2 separate regions of the Homo sapiens genome follow, and region 1 is linked to region 2. The links come from fine-mapping of genetic effects on gene expression. Tissue or cell type: prefrontal cortex. Region 2 holds a variant in brackets; the other region holds the start of a gene. All regions are shown on one strand. Distances are between the middles of the regions.

What was found. PIP is the estimated chance that this variant, and not a neighbour inherited with it, causes the effect.
Region 1: E2F4 starts here. The variant in region 2 is the best candidate, but not a certain one, in a credible set for the expression of E2F4 in prefrontal cortex (GTEx, PIP 0.55).

Annotation. Positions count from the first base shown.
Region 1 is chr16:67,184,554-67,196,709 of GRCh38, forward strand. E2F4 (E2F transcription factor 4) reads left to right here and starts at 7,602. Exons shown (of 10, transcript NM_001950.4): 1 at 7,602-7,809; 2 at 8,208-8,317; 3 at 8,456-8,617; 4 at 8,919-8,962; 5 at 9,845-9,906; 6 at 10,133-10,427; 7 at 11,229-11,453. The coding sequence starts at 7,675. It overlaps EXOC3L1 (exocyst complex component 3 like 1), which reads right to left and starts at 5,583. Exons shown (of 14, transcript NM_178516.4): 1 at 5,418-5,583; 2 at 5,078-5,130; 3 at 4,467-4,627; 4 at 4,168-4,387; 5 at 2,672-3,284; 6 at 2,468-2,585; 7 at 2,206-2,331; 8 at 2,004-2,104; 9 at 1,684-1,794; 10 at 808-937; 11 at 583-705; 12 at 349-504; 13 at 133-257; 14 at 1-51. The coding sequence starts at 5,123. RefSeq lists enhancers at 829-928, 7,325-8,255, 7,424-7,563, 8,644-8,753 and a silencer at 7,654-7,843.
Region 2 is chr16:66,369,423-66,386,006 of GRCh38, forward strand. It overlaps CDH5 (cadherin 5), which reads left to right. Exons shown (of 12, transcript NM_001795.5): 2 at 9,897-10,125. The coding sequence starts at 9,916. It overlaps LOC105371318 (a long non-coding RNA gene), which reads right to left and starts at 6,379. Exons shown (of 3, transcript XR_933687.3): 1 at 6,179-6,379; 2 at 3,735-3,795. RefSeq lists enhancers at 1,572-2,073, 3,272-3,801, 4,444-5,017, 10,053-10,679, 13,777-14,301. The variant G/A (reference allele first, on the strand shown) is at 9,870.

The DNA.
Region 1 (12,156 bases), 810 kb after region 2:
TCCCGGGACAAGTCCCCGCGCAGGCCCAAGAGGGCGGAGACGTGGTCCTCGCTGCAGGGGCACCAAGGAGGCGCGTCAGCCCCGTCCTCCCCGCCCTCCGGCTTCTCTTCCCTTCTGGCCCCCAGTCCGCACCTCACGTCGGGAAATTGTTGCCGCAGGCCAGCCACCTCCAGGCCCAGCAGCGCGGGGTCGCGGAGGTTTAGCAGCTCCCTCAGGGCGAGCAGCACCGGCGCGCAGTGCGCGTTCTCCTCCAGGCCCTGAGCACGTCGGGGTAGGGTCTCGCGCCAGCCCTCTCTCCCACCCAGCCACTGAGACTCTCGCCCGTCTGCCCGCCCAAGAAGCTCTCACCAAACTGAGGAAAAGCTGCTGAAGCTGGGCAGCATCGTGCCGCAGGCGCTCGGCCGCCTGGGTCCTCTCGTCGGCTCCGCGGCACACCAGGCGGCCTTGCATCAGCGCGCTCAGGTACTGGAGCACCACGGCACGCTCGGCCTCAGCCAGCAGCAGCTGCGGGGAGGCAATCAGGCGGGTGCAGGTCGCCTCTCACCCGCGCCGCCCCTTCCCCAATCTTTTCCCCCAACCCACCTGAACCGTGGGGTTCCGCACGCGCCAGAAGTCCCGGCAGAAGCGCCCCGTCCGTTCACACACACTTTGCAGGAGCTCAGGGCTCGACAGCCATTGGCGCGAGGGCAGATCCGCGAACAGGGGCTGGGGAAATGATCCAGATCTGGCATTGCCGCGGAGACCCCCATACGTAGCTGTACCGCCACCTCTCCACCTGCTCCCATCCTGACCTGAAGGAGGCCTCACCTGGAGCTCCGCCTGCAGCGCCTCCAACACCAAGCGGTAGATCCTCCTCTGCAACTCGTCCAGCGCAGCTTCCACTGGAGCCAAGGCCCCTGAAGGCGCCCCGTCCAGCTGCAGGACAGACACTGAGGAGCTGGACCAAGCAAAACTACGGCTTCAGGACCAAGGCCAAGGCCCGCATGGCCCTCGGTGGTCCAGACCCTCCGGCGCCACCTTGTGGGGCAAGTGTTTGACGGGAGGGAGCGAGAACAGCGGCTCTCTGCACTTCTGGTCCCAGGCATGGACCAGGGCTGGGAGACGGGCGCTTGGCGAGCTGCAAAGGACACAGCCCAGCGAGACCTGCCTCAAATTCGCGGTGCGTCCTTGAGGAAAACATTCTTTCGGTTTCTGTTTCCTCATTCGTAAAGGAAGGGAAGTATCCCAGTGAGGAGGGAGTAAAAAATCATCACTTGTTTTCCTTGCCCCCACCAAAAAGAACATACCACCCAAGAGGAAGGGAGTGTGTGTGTGTGTGCGTGTATACACACAGCTGTAACCCCAGACATTACTGGCACAGAGTAGGGCCTTGAAATATTTGCTGGACGAATGAACAATTGACACCATGTGCCAGGCACTATGGTGGCCACTTTACATGTTATCTCATGTGATTCTCAGAACATTCCATTAGTACCCCCATAATACTAATGAGAAAAGTGAGATTCACAGAGATTAGGTAACTCATCCAAGGTCACACAACTAGTAATTAGCAGAACTAGAATTGGAACCCCAGGGCGATGTGAGTCCAAAGTCCCTAGTGTCCTAGTGTGGGCTGAGCCCATACATAATAGGTACTCAATAGGGGGTTAGTGAAGGTGGGGTTCCCTGGGGGCCTTCTGGTACCTGAGTGCTGACTTGTGGTTGAGGGCGGCCAGTAGGTAGGGCACGTAATGAGGGGCCATTGATTTCCCCCTGAAGTGGTCTCGGGAGAATCGGATCAGAGCATCACTGAAGCTGCAATGGGCAGAGGTGGCTCCTGGACTTGCTGCTATGCTGGCATCCCCACAGCCCCAGTCCCTGGTACTCCTGTCCCACCTCCAAGATACCCAAGTCCTTGTTTGAAAGAGCCCTTTCCCTGTGACATGTCTTATTCACTCAGAGCCCCTTTGGGCTGCCTGGGGAGCAGGGATAGGGATCAGGAATGGGTCAGTGCCTCAGCAAACCTCCTCAAGAATGTGCCCAGTTCTGACAGTGCCATGCCATGCACTCGCTGTTGCAGTGACTCACTGACCAGGCTGGCCACACGAATGTTCTCTTCCAGGATCTGCAGGCAGAAATGAGCAGCCATCGGCAAAGCCTCCCTCCTTCCTCTCCTCCCCACTGCCCCATGGAGGCTGCCTGCCTGTCTGGCCACTTCCCACCTACCTGCAGCACAATGGCTGGCATTGGTGAGTAATAGGAGCCAGACGGGTCTGTGTTGGGCCCATGCTCCCGGCCCCACTCAGCTACCTCCCCATCCAGTGCATTCTGCAGCCACTGAGACACACTTGCCTGGGGGGAGGGGCCAGGGGCAAAGGAATGTAGCAGGGATCTGACCCTGCTGGAGATGGGTAGACATTCCACTCTGCAGATAAAGGCCCACAGCAGATAAGTAGGACTTCTCTGGACCTGTGCCTCAACTACTCACCTGGATGTTGGCCACAAATGTTGCCTCCAGCTGCTCAATGTTCTCCAAGGTCAGAAGGGGCTCCAGCTGGGACACATCAGCCTCAGGCCCCAACTCCAGGCTCCCCATCATTTCCTGCCTGGAGATAGGTGGCCTGGTGTCACACCAAGCCACCAAGCCCCCAGCCTCTGATCCCCCATGTCCCGCTGCCCCAAAGGCACTGACCCCAGGTACACATGCAGTGCCCAGTGCAGCAAGGCGAAGGCATCCGCAGCTTCTAGCTCAGGCCCTGCAAGGAGGTTCTGCAGGCTGCGGCGCAAACCACTATGCAGCGTGTGGGCCCATAGCTGGACCACGTTGTACTGTGGCGGGCAGCAAGGCGCTACTAGTGCCTCAGCTGTGGCCAACTCGACTGGCAGGGCCACTCGCAGAGCCTCCAGCCACCCTGGTAGGGCCCCTGGTGCAGGCAGCAGAGGTGACCCAAAGTGGGCCTGCTCCAGGCCCTCCTGTAGTGCCCTCAGACAGCGCTGACGCCAGTCCCGGGGGACCTGGCCCAGGGGGGTTGTTCGTCCAGTCTCCACCTCCGCCACACGCACAGCAGCCACCAACAGGGCTGGGTCCTCCCGTGCCAGCTTCCCTGCGGCCCCTGCAGCTGCTTCCACAGCCTGGCCCAGTGCCTCGAACAGAAGGTCCAGCCCCTGGAAGACTGGCAACTCCAGGCCCCCCAGGGGTGCCCACGTATCCTCTCGCAGCTGCTCCAGCTCCCGAAGGCTCACATATGCCTCCAAGAACTGTTGGCCATCAATCAGAGTCTGTGTGTGGGACACTGCAGCCGGCACTAATGAGAGTGAAAAGGAGACGGCCCTGGGTCTCAGCCTTCCCACCGCCTCAATGTGTACAGCAGGGGATACTGAGGCCCAGGGCGGGGGTGATGCATAAAATATTTAACAACCAGTAGAGTAAGCTGGGCACAGTGGCTCATGCCTGTAATCCCAGCACTTCGGGAGGCCAACGTGGGTGAATCACTTGAGGTCAGGAGTTTGAGACCAGCCCGGCCAACATGGTGAAATCCCATCTCTACTAAAAATACAAAAATTAGCCAGGCATGGTGGCACATGCCTGTAATCCCAGCTACTGGGGAGGCTGAGGCAGGAGGATTGCTTGAACCTGGGATATGGAGGTTGCAGTGAGCCGAGATCACACCACTGCACTCCAGCCTGGGTGACAGAGTGAGACTCTGTTTCAAAAACAAAACAAAACAAAAAATGAACAAAAAACCATAAATAAATAAATAAATAACCAGTAGAGTACTGGCCAATCTAAGAGGATCTTGGCAATGTCCTAAAGACCTGGTGGGCCAGAGGTCAACCCATGAACTCATGGAATATGAGGAAGCTGAGGATCCTGGAGGGAAGGCAGGGGAAATCGGGGGGTCCTGCCAGTACTCGCTCAGCCACTCTGTTAGGGAAGAGTTTGAATATACTGATAACCAGGTGGCCAGAGTCACATGACTGGGTGTCTGTCCTGACTCAAGCATCCCACACGTGGGAATCCCAGGATGAGCTGCCTCATAGGCCATGGGAAGCCCGGGCTACTGTCTGGGAGGTCCCTGGTGTGCTGCTCTATGCAGTTCCCCATCTAGTGCCCCAGCCCCTTGATTAGGGATGGGTGTTTGTGGACTGACTATTGGAGGCTGAGGCCCAGGGTCCCTGCATGCTCACCTGCCCGCAGCCGAGGCAGCAGGTGAGACAGGGCCTGCAGTTGCTTGTGCTGGGCAACCCGCTCCCGTAGGGGCTCTAGAGTCTGTAAGGCCTGGGACATGCCCTGGAGCAACCCACGGGCCTGGCTCAGGGCCTCCCGGGTTCCCTGCACCACCTCAATGGCCTGGGCCAGCTGCCACACACCAGTCTGCACGCCTTCCAGGTATGACTGCATCACTGACTGTGGAAAGATGGAGCCATGAGGCTGGGCCAGCCCTGCAGCACAGTCCCAGCACCCGCACCCCCTGCCCCATGCCCACCTTGAGGCGCGATTCCAGGGAGCAGGTACGCTGCACCTCGCGGCTGCGGTACTGGCCTAGCCTGGCCAGCTGCTCCGGCCGGTAGAAGATGCCTGAGGCCCACTTGAGCGCTGCACCCCGGGCCAGCTGCTCTGCCCGCTCCTGCTCTGGCCACTCAGGTCCTGGGAAGGAAGAGCCTGGGCAGCCGTGTAGTCAGGGAGGAGGGCCCAACGACCCCAGTCCCAGCTTTCTTATTTATTTATTTATTTATTTATTTGTTTGTTTATTTGTTTATTGAGATGGAGTCTCGCTCTGTTGCCCAGGCTGGAGTGCAGTGGTGCAATCTCGGGTCCCTGTAACCTCCGCCTCCCGGGTTCAAGCGATTCTCCTGCCTCAGTCTCCCGAGGAGCTGGGATTACAGGCGCGTGCCATCACGCCCAGCTAGTTTTTGTATTTTTAGTAGAGACGGGGTTTCACTATGTTGGCCAGGTTGGTTTGGAGCTCCTGACCTCAGGTCATCTGCCCATCTTGACCTCCCAAAGTGTTGGGATTACAGGCGTGAGCCACTGCGCCCAGCCAGTCCCATCTTTGTTGCCATCATTCCTCCCCTAGTCCACCCAAAAGGTTCATACCAGGGGACAACGCCGGCTGCATCTCATCCTTGGCTGCTGAGTCCATTGTGGGCCTGGAGGAGCCAGAGCTGAGGTGGGCCCGGGGCAAGCAGGCAGAGTAGATGCCCCTGTGAGCTGCTGCCTCTGTCTAAGCCCTTCTGAGAGGAGGAAGGAGGTTCTTCCCGGCCCCCTCGGGAAGTGAGAGGGAGCGGGTGTGATGCGGAGGGCACCTGGGAGGCTTTGCCTGCTAGGTTTCCCAGTCGTGCCCCTGCAGATGTCAAGCGAGACAGAGTGGGCACAGGCCTCCACTGGACCCTGGTCCTGCTCTGAGCTGCACAGGACAGTTTGGTACAGAACTTACCAGATTTGATCAGGCGTCCAGTTCTCCCTCCAAAAATGACCTTGGCCTTGAGAACAGCCCTCTCCCCAATGCAGCTGGGCACGCCTGCCACTTGCTCACAGGGCCTGGGCAACTCCAGCTGACTCCAGCGTGCAGCTGAATTCCTCTCCCCAAGGAAGTCTCTCTCCCACTCCCCACCCAGAAGCCCCTTCTTCCCACCGAGGCTCCTCCCTCCCCAAGGCCATCAACAGAAAGGAAGGAAGCTGAGTCTCTGGCATTTTATTCCCAACAGGAAAGAGTGTCTGCACAGAGGGTGGGGACAGCTGGGCGACACTTCCCTGAGGGGCGGGGGGGTGGGGTGTACTTGTACTCAACCAGTCTTGACCAGCCTACCCAGAACCTCTTAGTGCTCAGGAGAGGAGATAGGGATTTGCTAGACTTGGCCTCAACCTGGGGTGGTGGGCAGAGTGTGCAGATATGGATGCAGACGACATCAACAGCACAGGATGAAAACTGTGTTGGCCAGCCTCTGAGGAGGATGTGTACCTCTGCGGAGGAGTGAGAGGTGGCAGGCTCTTGTGAAGAGGGGTGTGGTGGGGGGTGGTAGGAGAGGGTCATGAAAGCTGTGTTTATCTTTTTTGTTTTAGACAGGGTCTTGATCTGTCACCAAGGCTGGAGTACAGTGGCACCACCATAGCTCACTGCAGCCTTCTGGGCTCAAGCGATCTGCCTGCCTCAGCCTCCCAAAGTGTTGGGAGATTACAGGCGTGAGTCACCGCAACTGGGCAGCTGTGTTTATCTTGAGAGTTATAGGGAGCCAGGGAAGGGACTATAAGGTGGTAATTATTTAGTGGATGTTCAGTCCACCACCCAAATCCACCCTTCAGGACAGAAGTGCTCATTCTCCAGCTGCCAGGAGTGTAGGCTACTGAGATCACACCACTGAGTCTCTCAGTCAATATTGGGGTGCAAAAGCATGGTACCATCGTGTGAACATGAACCCTTCAGAAGTGCTACCCCAATTTCAGAGATCCTAGTGGGATAGGCTGAGGCCTATAATATAATTGCATCTGCTCAATTCTGCTTGTCTTAATCCCTTAAAGGTGTGGATCCTGACCAGGTGCGGTGGCTCACACCGGTCATCCCAGCATTCTGGGAGGCTGAGGTGGGAGGATCTCTTGAGCCCACGAGTTCAAGACTAGCCTGGGCAATATAGTGAGACCCACATCTCTAAAAAACTAAAAATAAATGAGCCGGGCATGGTGGTGCATGCCTGTGGTCCCAGCTACTTGGGAGGCTGAGGTGGGAGAATCGCTTGGGCCCAGGAAGCTGAGACGGCATTGATCTTGCCACTGCACTCCGGCCTGGGCAACAGAGTGAGACCCTGTCTCAAAAAAAAAAAGTGTGGATCCCCAACAAACTTGCTGCAAAACCCTATCTCGAGTCCCATTTCCCAGAGGACCTGATCTAAAAGAAACAATAATAAATAGTAACAATGTTAAAAGTTACAAAATGACCGTATCACACATTCCTGCATGCCAGGAATGACTGAGTGCTTTACTGATATTTACACATAGGTAAACACGTTTGCATTGGCTGAAGTGTTCATAACCCCATAGTCTCTGAGCACTGTACTGTGAGGACAAGACGAGCGAAAGATGAGGCTAGGACCATGGGTGGAACAAGGTGGACAAGGTAGATATAGTTAGTGCTTGCTGTTTGGCAGGAAGTGAGGGATAGGAATAGATGGGGTGACCCCAAGACAGTAGGGCAGCCTTTAGGAACAGGTTTGATGTGGCAGTAAAATGAGTTTGAAATATATAAAAGAATAAATAAAGAGAAAAAAATGGAAAAGGAACAGGTTTGAGGGAGCAGATTGGATTAGTCAGGTAGTGTGGTCTCCTCTCCCAAGATGGGGACTAGGCAGAGTTAGTGATGTTGGGGCAGATTGGCAAGGAAAGTTCCGATGGCGTCCCCTTCTCTACTGCCAGGGCGGCCCACTGACGCCCTTCTCATTCCTCCCCAACTTCATCCCAACTCCCCGGTCTACCCAGGTAGTTTTCGTCTTATTCGGAGGCTGGACATTTGCTACTGGTCCCTGAAGTTTTGCGGCTGCACCCACAGACAGCAATAGCGCCACGTTCCCTGGAAGGCGCACGGGACGGAAGCGGAAGCAGTAACGCTGGCTCCGGCTGCCCGGCGGCCAGGAACGGAAGCGGAAGTGGCGGCGGCGCCGGCCTGGCCTGGCCTGGCTGAGGGGAGGCGGCGGGCGGGCGCGATGGCGGAGGCCGGGCCACAGGCGCCGCCGCCCCCGGGCACTCCAAGCCGGCACGAAAAGAGCCTGGGACTGCTCACCACCAAGTTCGTGTCCCTTCTGCAGGAGGCCAAGGACGGCGTGCTTGACCTCAAGCTGGTGCGGCCTGGGCTAAGGGGAGACAAGGGAGGCTGGTGGACCAGGCCTGGGCCGGTAGCGGGAACCCCGGGGGCGGCCCAGCTGGGTCCTCCGAGAGCCGGCCGCCATCGTGTGCTTTCTCACAGGAGAGAAGCCGGGGGATGTTTCATTCATTCGGCCGAGGCCATCGAGCTACAGCTATGGGCCAGGCTCGGGCTGCAGGTGTTCGTCCTCGTGGCCCTTCCTGGCTGGCGAGGAGAAGAGCTGCCTATGGGACAGAGCTGCGGTCCTGAGCTGCAGTAGCGCCTGGGAGGCACTACAGGGTTGGAATCCAGATTACTCCCTTCCCAGACCACGTCTCAGGGTGGCTGGGGGTACACCCCAGAGTGGGGCTGAGCATTCTCCATTCTCTCTGCCAGGCAGCTGACACCCTAGCTGTACGCCAGAAGCGGCGGATTTACGACATTACCAATGTTTTGGAAGGTATCGGGCTAATCGAGAAAAAGTCCAAGAACAGCATCCAGTGGAAGTGAGTGGGCATAGTGGGAGGGTAGTAGAGTCTCCCACCCAGAAGTGTCGGGCGTGGGGTGGAGGGTGCCGAAGAAGGCAGGGGCCATGGGACCCAGAGTTCTCAGCAGTCCCTCTCAGCCCCACTCCCTGGGCTCAGGGGTGTGGGGCCTGGCTGCAATACCCGGGAGATTGCTGACAAACTGATTGAGCTCAAGGCAGAGATCGAGGAGCTGCAGCAGCGGGAGCAAGAACTAGACCAGCACAAGGTGTGGGTGCAGCAGAGCATCCGGAACGTCACAGAGGACGTGCAGAACAGCTGATATCCTCCTGGCGGTCCCTGCTGGGGGGAGTGGGCAAGGGGCCCTCTGGTTCAACTTGCCCTGAGTCCTGTTCCTCTTGGGAGTTTGTCTTATAGCCACTGGCCATGGCCCAGCCTCAGGCTCCCTCCTCAGAGCCCCTCCCCTTCCACTCTTAGCCTGTGATCCCTCCCCCGGTGGACCTGAGTCCCCAGAACGGTCTCTGAGGGCCTGTGTGTCAGACCTTAGCTAAAGAATTGGGTCTTTTCTGTAGTCTGCCATCTGTCACCATAGGGCATCAGCCATTCTCCTTAACCCTCACACTTTGGCCTACGTCACTCATGAGGACATCTGCAGATGCTTTGCTGGTGAGCAGAGCCTGGGTAGGGGTAAGGGGGTGGGCTGGGCTCAGCCAAAGTCCTGAGCACTGGGCTCAGTGTCTTAGGAGAGTTCTGTCTCTTAAGAGGGTTTCTGGGGCCTGCTCAGAGAGGAACCAGGCAGGGTAAGTCTTCTGTCTGAGTGTCACTGGGACCCTGTGGAGGTCAGCTATACCAAAAGGGTACAGAAATTCTGGAGTGGGTCCCTGGGTCTGTTCCCATCTCTACTGTTTCCTGGATTTGGCTTCTTGGGTATGATAGAGGCACAAGGGGGAGAGAGGGAGAGAGGATATGTGTGTATTTGCTTGTGTGCAGGCTCTTACATGCAGGGCATGGGGGTGCCCACTTCCAACTTGTTAGTTTAGTTGCATTGTGAATACAGGATCTGTTCCTTTTTTTTTCTTTTTAAGAGATGGGCTCTTGCTGTGTTGCCCAGGCTGGTCTTGAACTCCTGAGCTCAAGCTGTCTTCCCTCCTCAACCCCCTAAAGTGCTGGGATTATGGGTGTGAGCCACTGTGCCCCGCTGATGTGTTTCTTCTCCATCTTGTATGCTCCTGACTGGTCATGGGAAAGGGATGTTGGCCTTGGCTAGAACACCCTCACCTAGGGATCAGCCATCGGTAGAGGAATGAGGTGCCTGTGGCCAGTGATCTTTCACTCCACATAATTGAACCCAGATTTCCTGGTTACTGACCCTGGGCTCTCAGGAAGAGAAGAGCTTTAGCTCTGCCTGGCCACTATGGGGGATGGGTGAGGCCCACTGTCTAGTTCCTCAGGGACCGTGATCTCCTGCCTTGCTCCAAAAGGCAGGCACCTCTGTTCCCAGCTCAGATTGAGCCCATGGGCTCTGACCCATTCTCCATGTCATTCTAGGAGATACCCTCTTGGCCATCCGGGCCCCATCAGGCACCAGCCTGGAGGTGCCCATCCCAGAGGTGGGTGCTTAGCCCAGGCAGGCGGGGTCAGCTGAGGGCGGGTGCTGGCTGTGGAGCCTGATAAGTCCTGGGTGGGGCAAGTAGGGGGAGGCCTGGAGTTTGGGGTTATCTAGGAGGATGGGCATCCTGGGTGGGAGAGGACACTGTGGTCCTGACCCGGAGTCGGGCAGGAGCCAAGCCTGCTTACAATTCTACCCATCTCCCATCCCTTACCACCCATCTCTAGGGTCTCAATGGGCAGAAGAAGTACCAGATTCACCTGAAGAGTGTGAGTGGTCCCATTGAGGTTCTGCTGGTGAACAAGGAGGCATGGAGCTCACCCCCTGTGGCTGTGCCTGTGCCACCACCTGAAGATTTGCTCCAGAGCCCATCTGCTGTTTCTACACCTCCACCTCTGCCCAAGCCTGCCCTAGCCCAGTCCCAGGAAGCCTCACGTCCAAATAGTCCTCAGCTCACTCCCACTGCTGTCCCTGGCAGTGCAGAAGTCCAGGGAATGGCTGGCCCAGCAGCTGAGATCACAGGTGAGGCACCATGGGAGCTTGTGACAGAGGCCCAAGAGGTAGTATCTCTGTGTTGTGGAACACCATGCTCAGAGTTGGAAGAGACTCTTCAGGTTGGGGATTGTCCTTTTCCTGACCACCTAGCCTTCCCTTGCTATGGTAATGAATGAGCCTTTTTTGTTTTTGTTTTTGAGACGGAGTCTCACTGTGTCCCCCAGGCTGGAGTGTGCAATGGCGCGATCTTGGCTCACTGCAACCTCTGCCTCCCAAGCTCAAGAAATTTTCCTGCCTTAGCCTCCTGAGTAGCTGGGATTACAGGCGCCCACCATGCGCAGCTAATTCTCGTACTTCTAATAGAGATGGGGTTTCACCATGTTGGCCAGGCTGGTTTCGAACTCCTGACCTCAAATGATCTGCCTGCCTCGGCCTCCTGTAGTGCTGGGATTACAGGCTTGAACCACCATGCCTGCCTGAATGGGCCCTTTTTAACAGGGAACCTCTGACTGTGGGAAGAGCCATTGCTGGTGGCAGTTTTCTCCCCCAGATCCACATCCACTGGTGTCTCAATTGCCCTGGTAGCCCGTCTTGAAGTATGGCCACAGCAGACATGTTGACCACGAGTCTTCTTCTGTAGGTCTTGTGTCCCTGTCTCCTGTGGTGACTAATTTCAGGTTACTTCCTCTGGGGGTGACTGGCAATGCCTAATTCTCCTTGGGTCTGGGAACCAGGCTTGTGGTCCTCCTGTGTCTGGGTTCCAGCACAGCCAGTTTCAACGACCTCTTCCTGACCTTGTATGACTGGGTTTGGGGGCTATCATTGTAGTGAGTGGCGGCCCTGGGACTGATAGCAAGGACAGTGGTGAGCTCAGTTCACTCCCACTGGGCCCAACAACACTGGACACCCGGCCACTGCAGTCTTCTGCCCTGCTGGACAGCAGCAGCAGCAGCAGCAGCAGCAGCAGCAGCAGCAGCAACAGTAACAGCAGCAGTTCGTCCGGACCCAACCCTTCTACCTCCTTTGAGCCCATCAAGGCAGACCCCACAGGTGGTGAGTACCTGCCCCCTGGGGGCAGAGAGAGAGAGTCTAGCCTCAGTCCAGTCCTAGGTCAGAAAACAGAATTGGGGATGGAACCCAGATCTCCTGTCAACCCTGCTGGACACGAGAGCTCTCTGCCAGCACCTCTGGGTCAGTGCTGGTGCCCCCTCTAGCACCCCATCCTAGGCTAACACAGAACTCCCTGCCGTCTCTCAAGCCCTTTCCTGCCACCCCTTGGAGCACCGCCTCACTAATTGACACTTCTCTGTATCACTCTCTCTCATCTTCTCTGTCTCCTTTCTGTCTGGACTCCTTGAAAAAGTAATCTCCATTCATTAGTCTCCTAGTCACCTTTCAGGTTGCAGCAGTCACCCCCCCAGCCCCAGTGTTACAGCGGTGTTACTCTTGAGAAGCTGCCGAAGGCCTGCCGAGCCCAGCAGCCTCCAGCGTGTTTTGCTGGTGCTCTCTTGGTCTGTGTCAATATTCTTTCCTCCTTTGGCATCATGATGCCAGCTTTTGGCTCTCCTATCTCACTGGCTTCTTGAACTCTTCCCTGGCGTGTCCTTAAACATTGCTGTTTTTGAGGGCTCTGTCCCATTCCACTCCTGGAGAGGGCTGCAGCTCTGGGTGAACGAATCCCCAGCCTCCGCCTGGCCTAGATCTTTTCCCAATCTGCACACTTCGGTGTCCACCTGCCGTCCTGTGTACATCCAAT
Region 2 (16,584 bases):
TAATCCTCCTGCCCAGGGAGGCAGCTATTGTTGCCTCCATTACAGATAAGGAAGCTGAGGCTCAGCAAGCAAGAGATGAACCCAAGGTCACACAGCTCCCGAGCAGCTGGGCAGGTTCAAATAGGCAGGTGCAAGGGCCTCATTCTGTTCCCCGCACTGCCCTGACAGTCCCAGACAAAGTCAGGAAGCCCAGAGGAGTCTGGAAGCCTCCTTAGCATGGGTGTTCTCTCCTTGAAGTTTGGAGCTGTCCCTTTAGAAGGCAAGGGGATAGACTAGATGACCCGGAGCCCAGAGATTCCAGCACAAATTTGTTTCACATCACAAAATAGGTCTGGCCAGTTGGTACCCTCTACCTTCATTCAGTGGGAATGAACTTGAACTCAGCCCCTGAATCCTCAATACAGTCTATGAGGATCCTCAATACAGTCTTTGAGTGATTGATTCGTGATGTCTGCCATAGGTGTGGAAAGGGGCATGTGGCAAGCTGAGTTCTGTTTTGCCAGCCCTGTCTTAAGAGGTGCCCTGCTCAGGGGTGTTTGCATATTCACTGGAGACTTTTTTGTTTGTTTGTTTGTTTGTTTGTTTGTTTGTTTTTGAGACAGAGTTTTGCTCTTGTTGTCCAGGCTGGAGTGCAATGGCGCAATCTTGGCTCACTGCAACCTCCACCTCCCAGATTCAAGCGATTCTCCTGCCTCAATCTCCCAAGTAGCTAGGATTACAGGCATGTGCTACCATGCCTAGCTAATTTTGTATTTTTAGTAGAGACGGGGTTTCACCATGTTGGCCAGGCTGGTTGCGAACTCCTGACCTCAGGTGATCCACTGGTCTCGGCCTCCCAAAGTGCTGGGATTTACAGGTGTGAGCCACCACACCTGGCCAGGGACTCTTAAGAAGGATAATTTTGTTGTCAGTAAAGGATCAAAATCCTATCGGTGGTCTTTTGGGCAGTCCCATGGCAGCCTATCCCATGAGCCATCAGAGGACCTATTTGGGAACAAGGAGGAGCTTCTTTAAGTTATACCAACAATTGTACCTACTCTGACCACCCTACGTGTTGTCTGAAAATATACAGATTTGTTTCTAAATCCTGTGAGTGGGGAAGGAGTGGGTGACAAGACCAGAACTGGAGCTGGCACCAGGCTGACAGGCAGCACGTCCAGGTCTAGGGCCTTGAGTTCATGCACCCAGGTATGGCATGAAGTGAACTCTTAGGCCCAGAACCTGCCTGGGCAGATAGGCCAGGAGGCAGAGGCTGTGCTGGTGGCAGGTGGCAATCAGAAGACCTCATGGAGTAGGCAGTGTGGGCCTTGAGAAGAAGTAAAGCGTTAACCCAGGAAACACAGCAAAGAAGAGCATTCCAGTCAGAAGGAACAGCCTGGGCAAAAAGCCTGCTGCTGAGAGGAAGGGCATTGTGCATTTCAGGAACTCCTAGCTCTCCTCGAGGCTGGAAGGGGCAGGGAAGTGGAGGAGAGGAGAGCTGGCAGGGTGGGCAGGGGACAACCATGCTAGGCCTTAAGGGCTGGCTGAGGAGCTAGACTTCCTCCAGCAGGGAGTGGGGAGGCTGTTGGCAGAACCTGCAGGGAGAGGAACAGGTCTGGAACCCACAGAAGCCTATCCCAGGGCCAAACTGAGCCACAAACCAGGAGGAAGCAGAAGGGGCCAGGTCATAGCTGCCTGGCCAAACCCCATTCCCGAGCTCCCAGGGCCTCACCCTTCATCCTCCCAAAGTCTGTGGCCGCCAATACGCAACTTTAAATGCCTGAGCTCAAGTAGACCATTTGAGAGTCCCCACAGAGTTTGGGGGTCACTGGGTCCCAGCCCCAACCTGGACTGAGATTTGAGCTGTGGAATGGGAAAGCGGTGGGGAGAGCTGCCCAGGGCCACACACGGAGCTGGGTCTTCAGTGCCCCCACTCCAGCAGGCACACCTCCTGCATGTTCTAGGCCGGCTCCTCCCAGCGCCCTGCCCCTCATCCCTGACCCCAGGCCTCTGGGCTGGAGTCCAGAGGCTGCAGGAGGCTGGGCTGGGATCCTAGCTGAAAGCGGGTGTGCTGGGGGTCAGGGAGGAGAGCAGCCAGGCCTGCAAAGAGGAGCCCTGCAGGAGTTGGCCTGGGCAGGTGCCTGTGGTCAGGGGTGTGCACTTGTGAAGGCATGTTTGAGGGTGTCACAGGTCCATGAGGCCTGCAGATGTCATGTGTGTGTCCTGGACCTGGAGCCTTCCTCTGCCCCACCCCTGAGGCCCTCCAGCCTATTGAAAACCCCCTATACTGCAAAGCCCAGACTTGGCCCCTGGAATCTAAGGCTTGAGTGGGGCTCTGGTCAGGTCGAGGGGCAGGGGGTCCTCCTGGTGCTCAGGGGCAGGACCAGCCCAGGGGCTGAGGGGCTGGACCAGCCCATTGAGGGGCCCCCAGCTGGGTCCAGACTTCCTATGTCTTATTTAGCTACAAAGCCAGGGGTCCCAGGCAGTCCCAAGAAAAGCAGCTCTAGCCCTTCCCCTCCCCGCCCTTCCCTTCCCTTCCTCTTCTCTTGTATCCCTAGCCTCTCTTTTTGACACTGTAACTCAGCACAGAGCTGAGCCGATCTCACAGCCCCTTGGAGGCAGAACCCCAGAGAGATGGACGCCCACAAAGGGAAAGGGACCAAAGGGAGCTTTGTGTGATGTCCCACAGTGGCTCAGTGAGAGGCAGGACTCACTCCTGGGACTGTGGTCCTCAGACCCATCAGGGCCCTCCCAGTCTGTATGCTCCCACAGCCTCCTCGATTTGTCCATCAAAGCACATGTCACAATTTCAAACTGCATTTTTCACCACATGACCGGCATCCCTCTCTCCCACGGAAGTGGAGCCTGTGTTTATTCCTGCATGGAATTAAGTGCCTGGCACATAGTAGATGCTCAATAAATGTTTGCTGCATGACTGTATAACCCCAGGACTCTAGAGAGAGCTTCAGAGAAGTGGTGACATGTGTCCTAAATCCAGGCAGAGGAGAGAGGACAGCAAGTGCACGGGCAGGGAGGATGCAACCAAACCTGGTGGGGTGGGGAGCTTCCCAGAGAGTTAACGTCCTGTGGGCCGGAGCTATGCCTGGAGGCTCACCAGGCACCTGCAGACCCAGACAGGCAGCTGGAGAGGAGCAGAAAGAGCCGCAGGAGCCCCAACCTTTTCTCAGGCTGCCCAGGTGACTCAGCCTTCGGAGGACCCCTCGGTCACCAGGCTTGGCCTAGGTGTCTAGGTTCTGATCCCAGTGGCCCCACCCACGGTAGATACAGACCTGGACCCCAGAGGCCTCTGCGGTCCCAACCTCCCATGGGAGCATGGTGGAGCCCAGTCGTCCCCCTTATTTTCCAAGGCTCCCCTGCTGTTTAATCCTGGGCTCCACGCCCACTCACCAGGGGATTCGGGCCACTCACTCCGTCCTCTCATTTTGGGTCCTCCAGACCTCCCCAGACTGAGGGAGGGTACAGAGGGCCCATCCTCCTCCATTTGGAACTGCCCCCAAACCCTCTCACATGGCTCTGGGGACAGCAGCATCGATAAGCATCCTGGATGCCTGGGACACTGCAGGTACCTGGCCTCGGCGTGCTCAGAACCTACATCTGAGTTGCCAAGCGTGGCCCCTCCCTGCTCACCACTGTGATCAGGCAGTTGCTGGGCTGCTCAGCTGGGAATTTCTGAACATGGAAATCACTTCCAAAATCCTCAGACCCTCTGAATGTCTGGGGTGCCCCAAATCTACCTGGCAACAGCTTGAGTCTCTCTGGAAACTGCTGAGAACGACCGAGAGATGTGACTCTTACCTGCCGAAAGGAAACAGGCTAAAATGAAAAAAGGGCTATGACCACATCTCCAGAGGCTGCAGCCAAGAGAAATTCAGTTTTCAGCTGTGGCTGCAGTAGATCTGACTGGCCCGGTTTCCTCTGCATCATGATGGGAAGGAACATCTGTCCAACAAGACCCTTCCCTGCAGCCCCCATTTTGGTTAGCCAATTTTTTTTTTTTTTTTTTTGAGACGAAGTCTTGCTCTGTCACCTGTTGCCCAGGCTGGAGTGCAGTGGCAGGATCTCAACTCACTGCAACCCCCGCCTCCCAGGTTCAAGCGATTCTCGTGCCTCAGCCTCCCGAGTAGCTGGGACTATAGGCATGCGCCACCATGCCAGGCTAATTTTTGTATTTTTTAGTAGAGACAGGATTTCACCATGTTTCCCAGGCTGGTCTCGAACTCCTGACCTCAAGTGATCCACCCGCCACAGTTTCCCAAAGTTAGTGGCCAAATTTCTAACCTAAAGGGCAAAAGACACAAATAAATGTGGCTTTTCAGATGGGAAGGTCCCACAGGTGTCTCTGAGATTGAGTATAGAAGGAGCCTAGGATTTAGAAAAAGATCGATCTGATGACAACCATTCATGAGTTGTTTGTCTCTGAGCCTCAGTTTCCTAATCTGTGAAATGGGAATGATAAGTCTTACATCCTGGGGATAGTGTGAAAATTAAATGCGCTGGCATGGATGAAGACCAAGCACCGAGAATAGTTCATTATTATTACATGTGAATGTCACCACAGAGATAGAGAGAGTGGCATGACGCAAAAAGCACTAATTTGGGGGAAAGACAGCCTAAGTTCAAATCCTGGCTCCACTGCCTCCGGCTATGTGAACTGAGATGACTTACGCTACCTCTCTGAGCCCCCATTTCTTTACCTGCAAAATGGGAACGCAGACAACTACCTAGAAGGGTTGTTGCAAGGTTTAAATAAAATAACGTGTGCCTCGGGGGAGTGCTCAGGGATGTCAGCCCTCCTCCACCGTCCCAGGCGAGAAAGAGCTGTCTCGGGAGGGTGCTCAAGGCTCTGGCATGGGGGTGCAAATGGGATTATGTGATCCCAAGCTCCCAAATGCCCCCAACCCAAGGTCCTGCCCCTCACCAACAGCTGACTGATGAGAGCTGAGCACCCAGACCTCCCTCTGCCCTGGCAAATGACACACAGCTGCTGTGAGGTGACTCTGCGAGAGCCAGTCTCAGCCCTGTCAGAGGGAAGGAGCTTGAGGGTGGCCCATGTGCTCCAAGGGACTTCTCTCCAGAGCTAGCAGCAGGGCCCCTGCTGGACACACAACAGAATCCAAGGGGCTTTTCTGCACCTTCAGAGAACGCTTTGTTATGTGGGGCCAGACAAAGCCCACTGAGGAGTTAATGTCCCCCCAGGAGCCACGTGGTCCGAGCCTGTGACTGGTGGACTCTGCTTTGCTGAAGTCTGGTGTAGGTACAGCCGTGCATCTTTTTTTTTTTTTTTTTCAAATCAAGGAAGGAACCTCATTTTATTCTGAATGTGTTAGTTTTGACCGTCTTCACCCTGAAATTTTCTCTTTGTTTAATTTTATTTATTTATTTTTTATTAGTATACTTTAAGTTCTAGGGTACATGTGCACAACGTGCAGGTTTGTTACATATGTACACATGTGCCATGTTGGTGTGCTGCACCCATTAACTCGTCATTTACATTAGGTGTATCTCCTAATGCTATCCCTCCCCTCTCCCCCCACCCCACGACAGGCCCCGGTGTGTGATGTGCATCTTAATGACTGGGACACATTCTGAAAAACGAGTTCAGGTGATTTCGCTGTTGTGCAAACATCAGAGAGTGTGCTTACACAAAGAAATCTGGATCGTATAGCCTGCCGCACACCTAGGCTGTACGGTACAGTCTATTGCTCTTAGGCTCCATACCTGTGCAGCATGGTACTGTACTGAATGCTGTAGCCAATTTTAACACGACAGCAAGTATTGATGTATCTAAACATATCTAAATACAGACAAGATACAATAAAATTCCCATGTAAAAGATAAAAAAGGAGCCTGTAATCCCAGCACTTTGGGAGGCCAATGCAGGAGGATCACTTGAGGCAGGAGTTCAAGACCAGCTTGGGCGATATAGTCAAACCCCTCCACCCCAACTATCTCTTCAAAAAAATTTAAAAATTAGCCAGATGTGCTGGCACATACCTCCTTGTGGGGCTGAGGTGGGAGGATTGCTTGAGCCCAGGAGTTTGAGGCTGCAGTGAGCCGCATTCACACCACACTCCAGCCTGGGCGACAGAGGGAGACTCAATCTCAAAAAAATAAAAAAGTAAAAAATAAAAATAAAAATAAAAAAATAAAAAATGGTACACCTCTCTATGGTACATACCATGAGTGGAGCTTCCAGGACTAGTAATTGGTCTGGGTGAGTCAGGGAGTGAGTGGTGAGTGGCCTAGGACGTCACTGTATCCTACTGTAGACTTAATAAACACCGTACACTTAGCTTCACTAAATTTACTTAAAAATATTTTTCTTTCGTCAATAAGAAATTAGTTTACTATTAGGGTAGTGCAAAAGTAATTGCTGTTGTTGCCGTCTAAAAAAAAAAAAAGCCACCGGCTACGGTGGCTCACGCCTGCAATCCCAGCACTTTGGGAGGCTGACGCGGCGGATCGCCTGAGGTCAGGAGTTTGAGACCAACCTGGCCAACAAGGTGAAACCCCGTCTCTACTAAAAATACAAAAAAAAATTGGCCGGGCGTGGTGTCACGCGCCTGTAATCCCAGCTACTTGGGAGGCTGAGCCAGGAGAATGACTTGAACCTGGGAGGCGGAGGTTGCAGTGAGCTGAGATCACACCGCTGCACTCCAGAACAAAACTCTGTCTCAAAGGAAAAAATAATAAATAAATAAATAAATAAATAAATAAAACACAATTACTTTTGCACCAACCTAATATAACATTTTTTATAAAGTTGGTCTACACTACCATCACCCCAAACACACGAGTAATGGCTTGTGCTGTGACGTCACAATGGCTGCAATGTTACTAGGGCAGAGGAATTTTTAGCTCCATTAAAACCTTAGGGGACCACATTCATATGTGCAGTCCATTGTTGACCAAACAGTCATTTTGCAGCACATGACTCTATTTATCCATCTGACCGCTGGCTGCGGTCAGCCCTAGGGATCACTAACCCATCCCAATAGGCCCCAGGAAAGAGAAAACCACATTCCCGCTCACTGTATTAGAGATGGGGTTCCCAGCAGGAAACAGAGCGAACCCTGGGAGGCCAATTGAAGAGATTTTATGAAGGGACTGCTTCAGAGAGGTGGGCTCCTTTAAGGAAACCAACCACTGCCTGCACAGAGGTGGGCTCGGATGTTGAGGTACCCAGAGACCAGCAACAGCACTTCTGCCTGGAATTCCCTTCCCTCTCCTGTCAGTCCTGTGGCTGGCACTCAGATGTGGGCTGAAACGTCCGCTCTCCCAGAGGCCTTCCTGGCCTCACAGGCTCAGCCAGCTGCCCCCTCACTCTCTGCAGCACCTCCCATTGTAATTCCCTGAACATCTCTGATCGCCAGCTGATACGTTTCCTCATTGACTTATTTATTTTCCTGTTGTTCCCATTACTGCAGACTCCCCAAGGGAGTGTGTCTTACTTACTGCGGCACCCCCATTGCCTAGCATGGAGCCCATCATGCAGTAGGCACCCAGCACCTATCTATCAGCTCAGAGCCTGGGCGCTCACCCTGTTCTGCCCAGAGCCCTGAGAACTCTCCCTCTCCCTGTTTCTCGTTTTCACTTCTGTCCATTTTACTTTGTCATCTTTGAGTCACTTCTCACTTGAGGCAGGAAGAAAGAATCAAGACTTGCACTTTCTTTCTGGACAAAGAAGGAAATGAGCCACAGGGTCTGGGTCCAGTGAGGCTGGGGCAGGGGTCATGCCTGCCGCCTCCCCTGAGTCAGGGACCAGCTTCCTGGCCAGGACTCCCAACCTGCCTCCTTTCTTCTCCAAGCCTTTCCTCACCGCCTTCCTCCTGCCTAGAGCATCCCTTCAAGGGCCTCAAGTCTCTTCCAGGTTGACCCCCTCATTTATGGCTGAGGAAACTGAGGCCCAGAGGGGTCAGGGCCTCTCCCAGGCATATGGCACTTGCATTCTGGGGCCTATCCCCACCCTGGGAGTCCACTTCCTCCAGGGCCAGAGGCAGGAACCAGAAGGCAGGGGCCGTCGATACTAAAATCAGTGGGCCCAGAGGTCAGCTGGCCCAGCACAGACACCCTCAGCCCTCCCTGAGGTCAGCCTGGCGCCAGCAAATCAGGGGAAATGTTACTAGAGTTTACAAACCTCTTGTGATGTACAGAGTCCAGCCTCTCCCTCTGGCCAGACAGGGGACAGTCAAGGGAGGAGGCCATCCCATCCAGCACCTTGTAGATCCTTGTCTGTCTCCATATGTGAGTCCTGGTTCCCTCTCCCACCCACCTGTTCTTCCTCTACATCATCCCAGGAGTTGCAGGTCAGTAACACAGGGACCCCAGAGGGTGGAGAGATAGAGTCAGGGCTGAGAGAACATGCTAATGGCCAAGGTCACAGCCTGCACTCCTCGTGGGGCTGTAGAGAAAACCCCTGTTCCTGGAATTCAGAATGAAGCCAGGCCTTGATCTCTGGGTGATCCACATCCCTACCCCACAGACCTGCCTTCAAGAGTGTGCAACCTGTGCAACTGTACAGGGCTTGCACTTCAAAGGGCATCATCCTTGGTTTAATGTTCTGTCGCCTTCTTAAAATTCTTTTGCACTGGGCCACACAAATTATGAAGCCATTCCTATGAACCCAGACCCTCAACTCACCACCCCACCCACCCCTGCTCTTCTGACAGCAAAGCTGACCACTCACTGTAAGATCTGGAGTGAAGGGCTGGCCCTCAGGGTTAAGACAGTTGGATTTTCCTAAGAGCCTTCTGAAGACAGAATCAAGGCAAAATTGTCAAAGGGGCTTTCAGGCAGGAAGATGTTTGCCGAGAGAAGGCTTTAAATCTTACCCCATAGCAGCTGCTGGGACAAGGGAAGTCAGGAGGAAAGGATTTGAACTTCCGGGCCAGACAACCTTGGTTCAAATCCTGGCTGTGCTCCTTACAGTTTGGGTGATTTCAGGAATGTTCTGAAACCTCTCTGTTCCTCTTCTGCAAAATGAGGGTTATAATTACACCAACCTGGAAGATGATGGGGAAGATTAAATAGATAAGATATATAAAGTGCTTGAAACAGTGCCAGGCAAAAAATAAATGCTTGATAAAGATTAGCTATCAGACACTTGGGTTCCTGTCTGAGTCCCACCACTTACTCCAATGTGAACTTAACATCTGTGTGCCTCAGTTTCCTCATTTGAACAATGAGGATAACCTGAGCACCCAATGCCTGGGGACTTAGGAGCTGCCATTGGCATCAGCCTCACACCCTCTTCCTGGAGACCTTCCCCACAGGCCCTCCTCTGGGCTCCCATATCCCCTGCACTTGCTTCCGTCCTAGCACATGTGACTCGCAAGTAGAAATGGTTTCCACGTCTATTTTCACCCTCCCCAGTTCGGAGTTCATCAAGGCATGAAGGGGGTCTGGTTCTGCTGGTGTCAGCAGACAGTGAAGGATGAAGGAGTGAACAGATAAAGGGAGTTAGGTTCCCTATGGAAGCTGCTCACACCCTTAGGCAGTGGCCACCATATATGGGCGATCGGTCAGAGTGGTGGAAGAAATTTTAGGGAAAGGACGCAAACCTTCTTGAAAGGTCAGAAGGTTTTGCATAGCTTCGGGGAAGAATAAGCAGAAGGCAGCTGTTCTACCCTGAGGCAGAGGGTGAGGAGTAGGTACAAGGAAGTGTAGGGAAATTTATCTTAAATGCGCTTGTTTACTCATGTTGTCCTAAAACCGACCTTTCATCCGAGTGCATGACTGCTCCCTGAAAGGGGGAACAATAATGTTAATTACCCGCAGATTGTGTTTGCCCCAGGCTTTTGGCATTATATCTAGCTGCTCTTATGTGAAATACCTGTGTCTAAGTACTCCTTTCATCGTCACTGGCCAGA[G/A]TCTGAATGTGTCTCCTCTTTCCCCAGATCTGTTCCTCCTGGGAAGATGCAGAGGCTCATGATGCTCCTCGCCACATCGGGCGCCTGCCTGGGCCTGCTGGCAGTGGCAGCAGTGGCAGCAGCAGGTGCTAACCCTGCCCAACGGGACACCCACAGCCTGCTGCCCACCCACCGGCGCCAAAAGAGAGATTGGATTTGGAACCAGATGCACATTGATGAAGAGAAAAACACCTCACTTCCCCATCATGTAGGCAAGGTAAGGCTCAAGCCCCAGGACAGGAGAAGCCATCAGCAGCTGGCCCATAGTGACAAGTGGTGGTGGTGATGGCGATGGTGGCAAAGGTGGTAATAGATATTGTGGTGGTTGTAGGAGTGGAGATGATAAGGGTGAAGGTGGTAGCAATAGTGGTAGAGGTCGTGGTGGTAGAAGTAGTGGTGGTAATGGTAGCAATGGTGGTGGTAGTGATAGTGATGGTGGTGAGGATGGGAAAGGCCAAGGTGGTGGTGGGAGTGGTGAGAATGGTGGTGATGGTAGTGATGATAAAGGGGTAGGTGGTGGTTGTGATGGTGGTGATGGTGGTGGTGGCTGTGATGGTGGTGATCACGGTGATGGTGGTGATGATAAAGGGGTAGGTGTTGGTGGTGATCACGGTGATGGTGGTGATGATAAAGGGGTAGGTGTTGGTGGTGATCACGGTGATGGTGGTGATGATAAAGGGGTAGGTGGTGGTGGTGATCATGGTGATGGTGGTGATGATAAAGGGGTAGGTGTTGGTGGTGATCACGGTGATGGTGGTGATGATAAAGGGGTAGGTGGTGGTGGTGATCATGGTGATGGTGGTGATGATAAAGGGGTAGGTGTTGGTGGTGATCACGGTGATGGTGGTGATGATAAAGGGGTAGGTGGTGGTGGTGATCATGGTGATGGTGGTGATGATAAAGGGGTAGGTGGTGGTGGTGATCACGGTGATGGTGGTGATGATAAAGGGGTAGGTGGTGATTGTGATAATGGTGATGACAGTGATGATAAAGGGGTAGGTGGTGATTGTGATGGTGGGTGATGGTGGTGATGATAAAGGGGTAGGCGGTGGTCTGACGATGGTGATGATGGTGGTGCTGATAAAGGGTAGGTGGTCGTTGTGATGATGGTGATGATGGTGATGATAAAGGGATGGGTAGTGGTTGTGATGGTGGTGATCACGATGATGGCGGTGATGATAAAGGGGTAGGTGGTGGCAGTGATGGTGGTGATCATGGTGATGGTGGTCATGATAAAGGGGTAGGTGGTGGTTGTAATGGTGATGATGATGGTGGTGATGAAAGATAAATGATGATGATGGTGATGAAAGATAAATGTTGATGGTGGTGATGATGGAAGTGATGATGATAGTGATGGTGATGGTGGTGAGGTTGGGGAAGGACAAGGTGGTGGTGGTGGTGGTAGTGATGGTAAAGGGGAAGGTGGTGGTTGTGATAGTGGTTGTGATGGTGGTGATGATGGTGGTGGTAATGGTGAAGGATAAGTGTTGATGGAGATGGTGGTAGTGATGATGGTAGTGATGAAAGATAAGTGTTGATAGTGGTGATAATGGAGGTGATGATGATGGTGGTGGAGGTGGTGGTGAACTCTATGGTTCAATTTCTCCCAGACCTTGGTCTGTAAACTAGATATCACTAACAGAAGGGCCATCCAGTGCCCAAGCTGATGAGGCTCACCTGGCCTGGGGGTTCAAGGTTTAGGACAAGACCAGCCAACCCTGCCGTGAAATTTTCCCATTTGAAAGATCGGAAAAGAACTGTGCAGCCTTCCACAAAATTGTGCTGAAGATGAAGTTAATCATCCAGGCCATATTTTTGCCAACTCCAGTCTAGGCCTTTGAACCTCCTCAAAAACCCCTTCTCTCAGGCTATCCCTGGTTCCCTGTGACCCCACACAGCTCCCCATATTCCACAACACCTGTAATGAGGTACCTGACCCAAGCCTGCCCTCCAGGGCAGGACCTCAGACTCTGACCCTCACTTTGTCCTCCTTTAAAACATGTCTATCCTAAGCCCATCCTCCTAGAGCTCAGAGCATATCTGAGTGACTGCTGAATTGCCTTACCATGTCAAACTGTCACTGATGTCAAAGCTATCCAGTCTAATTGAAAGGAATGGCCCTAGTAGTGGAATTTCACACACAATGACAGGTAGATGGACCGTGTGCTTTCAGAGTTTTCAATGAGGAAGAAAGTTTATTTTGAGTGCGTTAAAATCTCACTTTGTCAGCTTCTTGGAATCTAAATGACAGGTGCAAAAAAGAACATGTCAATGTGCTAGAGAAAGGAAGGACCATTCCAAGCACCGGACTGGGTGCCAGAAAGGTAACAACAGTGGGCTAAGACAGACATGGTCCCCACCCTCATGGAGAGGGTGGTCTAGAGCAAGGATCAGCAAACTACCCCCTGCGGGCCCAATCCAGCCCACTGCCTGGACTTGCAAATAAAGTTTTATTGGAACACAGCCACACTCATTCATCTACAGATTGCCCGCAGCTGCTTTCATGCTACAATGGCAAAGTTGAGTGGTGGTGACAAAGACCAAATGACCATAAGGCTACAAATATTTGCTCCCTGCCCTTTACAGAAACAGTTTACCCATCCTGGTCTAGAGGGGCAGCATATGTCAGACAAAGAACCCCACAAATGGTGTGGGGGTGCCCTCTGGCTGTAGAGAAACAGGCTGGAGAGGAACTTTTGATGGGAAGGCCCAGTCTGGCCATGGCACCAGAAATGCCCCAGCAGACCTTGGTCCGTGGACTGGCTATAGGGCCATCCCATGCTCAGACTGAGAAGGCCGGTGTGGCCCCAGGGTTCAGGGTTTAGGGCAGGGCCAACCATGGCTGCCATGAAATTTTCCCATTTGGGAAATTAGGAAAGATCTGTGTAGCATCTGACAAAATTGGATGGGAATGGGGCCAGCTGGGGAATCTCCACTCGGAGCCCCACCCACAACCAGCTGGCTGTGCCCATGGCTCCCAACAATAACTGGGATCTTGAAGTCCTCCAGCATGGCCACTCATAGGGGAAGACACTTGCCCAGGGTCACACTAGGAGACCAGGACAGAGCCCCAGGAGAATGCCGCCCTAGGAAAACCAGCATTCCTGACTCTCAACACAAATGCGAGCTCTGTGTCATACAGGAAAATGTCGTCAATCCACCTGCATCCTTCCCGGTGGGATAATTGTGCCTTGAATCAGCCTCTAAAAAGAATGTCTGACCTCAAGGAAAATCTATGGAGTGAGTCAGGGAAAGTCCGTAGAAAGTGGGGGCTACCTTTCAAGGGCTCGCCCAAGGGTTTCTAGCAGCAGGAAGAACGCCAGGCCTGCTGTCATTTGCCAACAGCATTCACTTGGCCCCTGGCATGGGGCTGGGTCTCCGAGGAACCACAAGGGGTCGTCACGCTGGGAAGAAACAAGGGTGCCTGGAAAAGACAAGGACAGGGCTCCAAGGATCACCTCCGGCTCCTGAGGATGTAATCTGAGGGAAGGAAGTCCCTGTTTATCAAGGTCAGAGCCTGGAGCCTTTGTTTACAGACCTGGCTGGACAATGGGAGCAAGTCCTGAGCCGCCTTCTGAACCCACAAATATGGGTTTTTGGCATTAAGATGTTATGTTTAAATACAGTGATCTTAGAAAACAGGGGTAGGGAGAGTGGAGGCTCCCAGAAACCCATAACCCTCATCTAATCATGAGAGAAACATCAGACAAATTCCAACAGAGGGGCATCCTGCAAAATACGTGACTCATACTCCTCAAACCTGTCGAGGTCATCAGAAACCAATGAAAGTCTAAGAAACTATCACAGCCATGAGGCACTTAAAGAAACATGACACCTCTGTGGAATGTAGTATCCAGTGTGGGATCCTGGAATAGAAAAAAGACATTAGGTAAAAAAAAACTAAGGAACTCTGCATAAACTATGCCCTCTGGTAAATAATAATGCATCCGTATTGGTCCATTAATTATAACAAATGCACCACATTCATGTAAGATGTTCATACTCCGGGAAAAAGAGGAGCAGGCATCTGGAAACTCTCTGCCCTAGTTTCTCAATTTTTCTGTAAATCTGGAACTGTTCTAAAAAATAAAGTCTAGGGAAGAAAAATTGAAGGGAAGGAAAACAGAAACTGGATATTCACATGAAATTGTATGCAGAACTCCAATCACACAGATCCAAGCTGATTTCCTCCCTCCATCCTCCCTGCCCTGGTGGGTCCTAACACACTCACCGAGAGCCCAGTTGGAAGGCCACCATCTTATCCTCACCTTGAGCAACTCACACAGGGCCCCAAACTGTCCCCTTCTCTTTGAGTCTCCACTGTCCTCGCAGGTCACAGGTTACAGAGCTGAGGCATGGCTTCTTGCCTCTAGTCCAGCTGTTCATCATGCATCCTGGCCACTGGGCCTTAGTACCTCCTCATGAACCCACCTGCCCCCTGCACGCCACAGCCTTGCTCCAAGATGCTTGTTGCTGCCCACCTCTCTCCCACCCTGCCCGACCAAGGGGGCAATCCTCACTCCCTGTCTCCACTTCCTCCCCTTCTAGAATCTTCCCTAGGCTGCATCATCTAACTTCCCACCCTATCAACCCCTGTCAGTGCCCTCACTGAGGGCTCCAATGACTGCACTGCTGCTAAACCCTGGGGACACTTTCCAGACCTCATGGGATGTGGCCATACCCTCTGGAATCTCCCTCTTCTTTCTTGAGACCCCAGCCTCTCTTGAGTTCTCTGGAGGAGTCCAGCCTTTTTTTTTTTTTTTTTTTTTTTTGAGTCTGAGTCTCGCTCTGTCACCCAGGCTGGAGTGCAGTGGCGTGATCTTGGCTCACTGCAACCTCTGCCTCCCAGGCTCAAATGATCCTCCTCCCTCAGCCTCCCAAGTAGCTGAGACTACAGCTGGGTGTGCCACCACACCCAGCTAATTTTTTTTTTTTGTATTTTTAATAGAGATGGGGTTTCACCATGTTGGCCAGGCTGGTCTCAAACTTCTGACCTCAAGTGATCCACCCACCTTGGACTCCCAAAGTGCTGGGATTACAGGCATGAGCCACCATGCCCCCCGAGTCCAGCCTTTCTAAAGAGTCCTCACCAGATGCCTTCACACAAAAGCCCTTGCTCTATTTGACTTTAAATAATGTGAGGCAGACTCAGTAGCTCATGCCTGTAATCCCAGCATTCTGAGAGGCCAAGGCAGGAGAATTGCTTGAGCCCAGGAGTTTGACAACAGCCTGGACAACATAGTGAGACCTCATCTCTACAAAAAAATACAAAAATTAGCCGAGCTTGGTGGTGCACACTTGTAGTCCCAGCTACTCCGGAGTACCTGTCTCAAAAAAAAAAAAAAAAAAAAGAGGCTGGGCGTGGTGGCTCACACCTGTAATCACAGCACTTTGGGAGGCCAAGGCAGGCAGATCACTTGAGGTCAGGAGTTTGAGACCAGCCTGGCCAACATGGTGAAACCCTGTCTCTACTAAAAATAGAAAAATTAGCCAGGCACGGTGGCACATGCCTATAATCCCAGCTACTCAGGAGGCTGAGGCAGAATAATCGCTTGAACCCAGGAGGCGGAGGTTGCAGTGAGCCAAGATCGTGCCACTGCACTCCAGCCTGGGCAACAGAGCTAAACTCAAAAAACAAACAAACAAACAAAAAAGCAATGTTGCACTTCCTCAGCATGCCAGCCTCTGAGGCTGCAAACCTAGATCCTGAGAGCCACAATGGGATCTGTACCCTCTGTACTCCTAGTGGGGGCCTGGCACCTCCCAGGCACCAAGTTATATTTTTTAATTGAATAGAATTCTATTTTGGGGACATACTAACCTTCTATGAGAGTATCATTGTATATGCATAGAATACTATTCTATAGGAACTATACCGTTCCTAATATTTTCTGTTTCTATGATTCTTTAAATGGAGATCCTCTAACCTGTGGCTCTATTATTGATAATTATTAGCTAGCATTTATAGAACCCTGTTTGGTGTAAGATGCTTTACATATATTATTTTCCAAATCTTACTCCTTGGGACATGAACAGTACATGTTACACAGAAAAATGGTTCTGTGGTCTAAGAAGTATGGAAAATCCTGAGTTACACAAAGCTCACTGGAGTTCTTTTCTGCAGAGCTGTACATTGTAAATCTCCAAGAAGAGAATATTTTATGCACCATTTTCTGTACTGGGCCCAGGGGTGTGCTGATATATGTTTGACAACTGGCTGTCCAGGGGAAAAGTTCTGATGCGTAGCACTTGCCAATTTCCATGGTGTAAATATTCTCACCATGTCTCATTTCAAGCTATCAATGTGATGTCATCGAAGGCCAAGACAAGACAGGAGAAGATCCTCATGAGCACATCATTATGTAGCATTTCCATCATACAGATACCATAAACACAGATAACCTCAAAACACAGTCAAAGGTAGCAAAACAATTAGGAAGCGATGAATTCTGAGAATTCGTTGTTTTTCATGATTTATTTAATTGTAAGTTCATATAATTTAATTTGTAATAGTGGCTGTATTTAACAATCAGCTCACAAATATTCCTGAAAATTTAAGCTGGTTCTTGAAAGCCAAGCTGATACAATCCAGCGCCAGCACACCACTGGCTAGGACCCCATCTTTGCGTGGAACAGCAGAAGAGTTCAGTGTTTCCCAGAACTCATCTTCAAAAGT